Homo sapiens: one gene and its partner. The protein of the gene in region 1 interacts with the protein of each later gene in a pairwise test. Each region holds a gene or a part of one and is shown on either strand. Other genes may lie near its edges.

What was found. Proteins that work in one complex are often made in the same cells at the same time.
Region 2: the proteins of GOLGA2 (region 1) and KRT6B interact in binary tests that used the Homo sapiens proteins (3 or more experiments, as listed by UniProt).

The regions. Positions count from the first base shown.
Region 1 is NC_000009.12:128,266,008-128,269,507, forward strand, and holds part of GOLGA2 (golgin subfamily A member 2), read right to left. Parts: intron 2,518-3,500; coding exon 2,413-2,517; intron 2,154-2,412; coding exon 2,110-2,153; intron 1,991-2,109; coding exon 1,927-1,990; intron 1,511-1,926; coding exon 1,451-1,510; intron 1,268-1,450; coding exon 1,187-1,267; intron 319-1,186; coding exon 280-318; intron 14-279; coding exon 1-13. UniProt on the Homo sapiens protein: Peripheral membrane component of the cis-Golgi stack that acts as a membrane skeleton that maintains the structure of the Golgi apparatus, and as a vesicle thether that facilitates vesicle fusion to the Golgi membrane.
Region 2 is NC_000012.12:52,449,347-52,453,605, reverse strand, and holds the start of KRT6B (keratin, type II cytoskeletal 6B), read left to right. Parts: upstream 1-1,459; 5' UTR 1,460-1,527; coding exon 1,528-2,067; intron 2,068-2,985; coding exon 2,986-3,200; intron 3,201-3,533; coding exon 3,534-3,594; intron 3,595-3,752; coding exon 3,753-3,848; intron 3,849-3,972; coding exon 3,973-4,137; intron 4,138-4,259.

The sequences.
Region 1 (3,500 bases):
ATTCTTTCTTTTCCTATAGGAAGAGGAAGACAGAGCTCTTACGAGGGGGAGGCAGAGACGGCACAGCAAGGGACATGCCCCCAGAATGCCACCAATGTCCCAGGACAGGCCCACCCATGGGACCAGGTTATCAGGGACCCTGTGGGGATGGGGTGGAATCTGGGGGGGTGAGCCTTCTTCCCCAGGCTGGGAGTGGGTGAGACGAGACTGAGGCCTCTACATTTGAATGCCCCCCAAACCCAGCAGTCATGTTGTGAGCAAACAAAGAAATCACGTTACTTCTTCCAACTGATCCGTAATTTCTTGGTTCTGTTGTTTCTGTGGGGAAGAGTCAAAGGAAGGTGACTGAGGGTGGCCCCCTCAACTCTATTCCCCAGACCAGGAACGGGTAGGCAGGGGCCAGGAATGGATTTTAAAGGCAAAGTTCTCAGACCCAATGGGAACACGAACTGGTAAACTCTCCTCAGGCTCTCAAGGAAAGGGGATTTGTGTCTTTGTTGGTTTTTGCCCACAGCCACAGAACTGAAAGTCTGAATCTCGATTCTCTTGAAAGGACAGTAACATAAACCTCTAGAGATGGAGTGTGAGAAAAGCCCACCCTCTGCCAGTTTGTGATTTAGAAAGGTGTAATCATTCAACAAACATTTGCTGAGCACACACAGGCCAGGTACGGTTCTTAATAGCAGGGATACCAGACAGAAAAAGACAGACAGGAGCCCTTGGCCCTGAGGTTTACATTCTAATGGGCCTTTAAATCTTGGACTCTCAGAGCTAAGAGACCTTTGATACTCTCTAACTCTACCTCCTCAGGAAATGCAAGCCCAAGGAGGAGAGGTGGCTTGTCCCAAATCAAAGAGCAAATTAAGGACTGAGTCAGGGCAGAAATACAGGGCTCCTGACAACCAGTCAGGCTAGCGCTTCCCCAAGAGGCAACAACCCCAGGGCGTGTGTGGCAAGGACTCGAGCAGGGGTGTCTAGAGAAGAGAGAGTAGGCAAAGAGGGCAGCAACAGAAGAGCCATGCTGCATGCTCCGTGCTCTGGGGTCCCTCCAGCTGAGGCCTGGGCCCCCCAGCTCCCCATTCGCCCTTGGCACCAGGGGCCCCCTGCCCCTTTCTTCAGGGTCCCAAGGGGAAACTGGAGCCCAGGATTAGCAGCATGGAATCAGGGGACCCCACTGGACTCTTACCAATTTCTCTATCGTGATATTGAGTTGTTTGTTTGTTACATAGCTGGAGTCCAGGGCTACCGCTAGCTGTTGGTACCGGCTCTGAGGCGCATGCAGAGAGGAGGAGTTGGAGGAGGATTGGGGGGAGAGGTAGAGAGAGCAATCATTAGGGTTGGGGGGTGTGTGGGCTGTCTCAGCTGGCAGAGGGGCACCCAGCCCCCGCTGTGGGAGGAGGTTGGAGGGCTGGCCTGCAGGGTCACTGGGCCACGGCCCAGGGCCTCTTACCTCCAGATCCTTCAGGTTAGCAGACGATGCAGGGCCCTCCCCATTGACACATGTCGCAGACTATAAGAGACGAGAGTGCACATGGAGATGTTCTGTCCCCTCAGTGTCTAAGCCCTCTAACTTCGTTTCTTCCCCAGCAATTGGCAACATTTTCTTTTCTAACTTGGACCCTCTGTCCCGTAACCCCTTTGTGCCAACTTCTCTCATGGTTCTTATTTCCCCACCATCCTTTCCTCCCGAGCAGCTCTCATCCAGTGCTTCTGCAGCAGGATACAATGATGCAACCAGTCATGGGGTCCAACTCCTTCATGTGCACAACTTCAAGGGAGAAGGCTCAGGGAAAAGGCGACTTCCTTAACATTGCCCAGCACATTGGCTGGTCCCAGGATCTTCCCTCTCTCTTGTGAATCCCTGCTTCAGTTTCTATCATAGTTCCCTTCCCCCCACCCCGCTCTCGGCCTCAGTTCCTGAGGTACCTCACAAACAAGACCATTGAGCTGTTGGGAGAGTTGTCGCAGGCTCTCGGTTGATGAGAAAGTCCTAGGGATGGAGACACAGGGGTCAGGGGTGCAGGTGGCTCAATGGGAAAGAAGGTCATGGGCAGTGGCCTCCCTGACTCTCTCAGCCTAGAGACTGCTGCCCCAACAGGAGACACTCACTTGGTTTCATCCATGAGATTAGGGACATTGTCAGCATCATGATTCTGTTTGGGAAGAAACGTGTGAGATGGTCATTCAATTTCTGGTAAGAATCACCCAGGATGGGGTGAGTCAAGCTCCCAAACTCATTCTAACAATCTTCAATCTCCCCAGGCCTCAAGGAAAAAAGCCCAGTCTGAGCCTTCCCCCGGCCCGGTCCCCAGGAAGGGCCCTTGACCCTAGGGAACAAGCTGCCTGTGAAAGGAGAAGATAATGCATAATAGGTACAGGAGGGCAGTGGGCAGAGGGGGAGGAGGCACGAACCTGAGATGCCGCCATGCTAGTGAGACTGGCACCAGGGGAAGGGACACCGCCAGGTAACACGGTGTCATCAGATGGTTGTAGAGTAGCAGCATTGTCCTTGGGTGTCTGTCACAGAACAGAGCAGGGGGTTAGGGGGCCATGCGGGAGAGGTGCCTCAGTACTATGAACACAAGGGTGTGGAACAGGTAGGACAGGTGTTGCTGCAGTCAGAGTGACAGTCACACATGCTAGGAGCCACTCAGGGGTGTGGATTGGTTGCCCAGGCCTTGGGCTGCTAGGCAGCATTTCAGATGGCCAAAGCTCAAAGCAGGGGCTGCACGGCCTCCTTCATGAACACGAGGACCTCGCTCTCCCTGGAGCTCAGCAAAAGACAGCAGCAGGCTCTGACCTGTGGCAGCCACAGCAGGCAGGAGGAAGGTGTGCCAAAGTCAGGGAGGAGAAAGGCACTGTTCTTCCAGAAGGCCAGTCTGTGCTGCAGAGTGACCCTCACTGGGCCCCTACTGGGCAGAGGATGGTGATGAGGAAGTAGTTGTCTGGGCAATGCACAATGTAGCTATCTGCCTGTCTCCTCCTTTCCTCCCTTCCCTTCTCCCCTGCAGTGGCACAATCATAGTTCACTGCAGCTTCCACCTCCTGGGCTCAAGCAATGCTCCCACCTCAGCCTCCCTAGTAGCTGAGATTATAGGTGCACACTACCATGCTCAGCTAATTTCTATAGAAACATGGTCTTGCCATCTTGCCCAGGCTGGTCTCAAAGTCCTGGGCTCAAGTGATCCACCTTGGTCTCCCAAAATGTTGAGATTACAGGTGTGAGCCATTGCACTTGGCCTACTGGCTGTGTTTCTGATTCAGGCCTTTTCAGGGGGAAAAAAAAAAAGCTGCCCAACTAGAAGACTCTCTCCAACTCTCTGGAGGTAAAAAGAGGATAAACCATGGCCAACACCCCCACCCCGACCTCTTACCTCCAAAAACATCTACCCAGCCAAGAAACCACCCAAGAAAACAGAGGTAAGACATCTTCCCTGTGGCTCTTGGCAACTTGGAAGTTGTAGGGCCTCTTTCCTGGGAATAGTACCTGAGGACAATCC
Region 2 (4,259 bases), on another chromosome or scaffold:
ATGAATACATGAAATATTTTATATACATAAAACACACTCAAACACATACACACAAAACATTCATGTATTTATTTATATACCTTTCTACAATGCAGGCTCCCTCTCTATATATGCCAACTCCCTCCACCTCTTCCTCACCCATACAAACACACGTTGACACAAACACATATGCACAGACATGTCACCCATGGCCCAGGAAAAGCACAGGAAAATATCCAAGTAAAGATACAAGGATACACAAGGAACTGCTAACATTACTTCCTCCATAGATAGGAATTGGGTAACTGGGGAATGGCCTTGAGCTATATTATTTTGTTGTTTAGCATGTTTTACAAAAAATTTTTTAAAACATGTATCATGTATTCAATTTGTAAACATGTAAATAATTGTGCAAATAGTACTATTCAAAATTTAAATGGGCAATCTACTACATTTACTTCTAGAATGTTTAAATATAGACAGAATCTTAATAAGCTTCTAATTTTAATATGAAATATGAAGGTTAGAGTCTCATATTAAAGGAAACAATAGGGGTATGCAATTAGAAAAATCCCAAGAATGAAAAAGTACAATGAACAGTTAACCTGTTTTATTTAACAAATAAAAGTAAGAAATGAAGGGAGATTTTTAAATTTCAATGATTTAAAGGATATATCACTCAAATACAACGTTTATAGAGCTTATTTTGACTCTGATTGGGACACCAAAATATAAGAAATATATATCAAAAATAGGACTGCTTGAAGACTAAATAGACACTTGTTCATTTTAATTAGTATGTAAATTTTTAAGATATAAAAATAGTGTTTTGATTTTTTAAAGGACCTATTATTTAGATATTAATATTGAATTATTGATTGAAGACATAATATGACTTCTGGAATTTCCTTTCAAACAATCTAGAATGGAAGAGGAAATAGGGTTGAAGTATGAAAGAAATCAGGCTGGCCATGAGATGATCATCATGGAAGCAGGTGACAGGTATATACAGGCCCATTGCAGTGTTCTGCTTCTCTACCTGTTTAAAATTGCACCTAAAAGGTGAAACAATTATGGGGAAATTGTAATATTTCTGTTAAGGAATTCACAATACAGTGCCTGTGATCTCCAACAGCAAGGCTGGAAGAAAGTCAGACTGGGAAGAGGAGGGCACTCAGGGCATGTCGATAAACAGCCTAGCATGCAGAACCTTTGCTGAAGACAGTGACTAATTCCAACTTCATGAATTGAGAATACTCTTATTGTGCTGAGATCTCAAGTCAAAGCTGGAGGCAGGAACATTTTGCCTGACTAAAGGAAGCGAAAAATGCAATCTCGGTATTTCATAACTTTTGTAATAATGCAGGTGTGATCTCACTATTTGTAAAGCCCAGCCCTTCCCAACCTGCAAGCTCACCTTCCAGGACTGGGCCCAGCCCATGCTCTCCATATATAAGCTGCTACTGGAGTCCGATTCCTCGTCCTGCTTCTCCTCCCTCTCGCCTCCAGCCTCTCACACTCTCCTAAGCCCTCTCATCTCCTGGAACCATGGCCAGCACATCCACCACCATCAGGAGCCACAGCAGCAGCCGCCGGGGTTTCAGTGCCAACTCAGCCAGGCTCCCTGGGGTCAGCCGCTCTGGCTTCAGCAGCATCTCCGTGTCCCGCTCCAGGGGCAGTGGTGGCCTGGGTGGCGCATGTGGAGGAGCTGGCTTTGGCAGCCGCAGTCTGTATGGCCTGGGGGGCTCCAAGAGGATCTCCATTGGAGGGGGCAGCTGTGCCATCAGTGGCGGCTATGGCAGCAGAGCCGGAGGCAGCTATGGCTTTGGTGGCGCCGGGAGTGGATTTGGTTTCGGTGGTGGAGCCGGCATTGGCTTTGGTCTGGGTGGTGGAGCCGGCCTTGCTGGTGGCTTTGGGGGCCCTGGCTTCCCTGTGTGCCCCCCTGGAGGCATCCAAGAGGTCACTGTCAACCAGAGTCTCCTGACTCCCCTCAACCTGCAAATTGACCCCGCCATCCAGCGGGTGCGGGCCGAGGAGCGTGAGCAGATCAAGACCCTCAACAACAAGTTTGCCTCCTTCATCGACAAGGTGAGCCAGTGCCATGCCCTCCATCGGGCACTTCAGGGTCCCCAGACCAGAAGAGCAACACCTTCCTGCCGGAGAGACCCTAGGAGGGAGGGAGAAGGGGACTCAGCCCAGCTCTGCAGAGAGTGCAGGTGGCTCTCGGTGCACAGGAGGCAGCACAGATGGGCATCACTCCCCCATGGGATATCTGGAGTGGCCCTCACTCCTGCCTAGGGAGAGCCATAACTTTTCATAACCCTGAAGCACAGATGAGGCCATCAGAGAGTGGAGTAGGTTAATTCTCCCCTCTGAAGTGTTTAAGAGATTACAAAGCAAATGCCAGGAGTATATGGGCTGGTAAATTACACTCTGGGGTCTGGGTAAGAGGAAAAAGATTTAGAAAGAAAAGGAAAAGATAATCTGGCTGGATTAAGAAAAAAAGGGACATAGAAACAACTGTAAAACATGGATAAATGCTAATTAATTTTAAAAACAGAGAATGACCATAACATCAGAATATTTGAGAGGAGACACTAAATGGGAAAGTAGACTGAAATGTAATCATGAGTCAACATCTAATATCCCTCCTAACTAAGATCCTCTCGGTAAAAAAAACTGTGTACAATATATCAGGTAATTAGTATTTTTAAACTAGATTTGTGATTGTGCTTGGAAAAAGAAAAGAAGAAATGTTGAAACTCACTGATGATCAATAGCTTACAGTGCGAGAACACCTCAGTGGTCCGTGGGACAATTTCTCTAGTGAGACTGGTGGGGTGCAAAGGAGAAGGAGTTGGGGGAGCAGAGCTCAGCCTGAGCCTCTCTACATGCACTGTAGTAGCCCAGCACCATGGGGACCTCCCAGACCTCCAGGAAACTGGATACCAGACACTTTCTCTGCCTTCCTTTTCCTGGAAAATGACCATTTTGCTTCCCCTCCAGGTGCGGTTCCTAGAGCAGCAGAACAAGGTTCTGGACACCAAGTGGACCCTGCTGCAGGAGCAGGGCACCAAGACTGTGAGGCAGAACCTGGAGCCGTTGTTCGAGCAGTACATCAACAACCTCAGGAGGCAGCTGGACAACATCGTGGGGGAACGGGGTCGTCTGGACTCGGAGCTGAGAAACATGCAGGACCTGGTGGAGGACCTCAAGAACAAGTGAGGACTCCATTTCCTGCAGCACACACTTCAAGACTATTGGGTGACCAGGGCCAGATGTGTGTAGGATTCCTAACAACCCATGTCCATGGAAATGAAAAGCACAAATTAGTCCCTAGGAGCAAACCTGCAAGAACCACAGATGGTTATGGGAGGATGGGGAGATTAAAGAAATGGCAAATTTAGTAGTAGCAAAATTCATCTCTTTGGCTCTCTGTGGCAGGAAAGCTCAATTAGAATATATTCCATTCAGGAAAATGTTGAATCCCAAGCTGCTTTTCTGTTTCATCCTACCCACTGGCTCAAATGTGTCCCATGCCTTTCTTCCTGTAGATATGAGGATGAAATCAACAAGCGCACAGCAGCAGAGAATGAATTTGTGACTCTGAAGAAGGTGAGCAGATGAAGCCAGGGGTTCAAATTCATTTAGAAGGAGAGAAGTGGCTCTGTGTCCTCGCTCCCCTGGGAGAGGAGAATTGGCAGGAGGACTAGAAGATGGGTAGATTGGAAAGGTGAGCTCAGGCAACTCCAGGTTGTTGGCTCTTTCCCCAGGATGTGGATGCTGCCTACATGAACAAGGTTGAACTGCAAGCCAAGGCAGACACTCTTACAGATGAGATCAACTTCCTGAGAGCCTTGTATGATGCAGTAAGCAACTCCACCATCCTTCTGTTTACTCTGATGGGGTCTGCAAAGGGGAGAAGATGTACAGGGCTGGGCATCTCTGTAAATGTCAGAAGTGAAGTTGATCTTATGACCTTCTGTTCTGCAGGAGCTGTCCCAGATGCAGACCCACATCTCAGACACATCCGTGGTGCTATCCATGGACAACAACCGCAACCTGGACCTGGACAGCATCATCGCTGAGGTCAAGGCCCAATATGAGGAGATTGCTCAGAGGAGCAGGGCTGAGGCTGAGTCCTGGTACCAGACAAAGGTGAGCACGGAGTGGACAGCCGCTGAGGAATCCTTGTGTCCATCCCTGAATACCAGAGGACTGCAGACTTCACTGGGGACATCCCCTGACAGGAAGCTGGGGTCCTCTCACAGGACATGCAC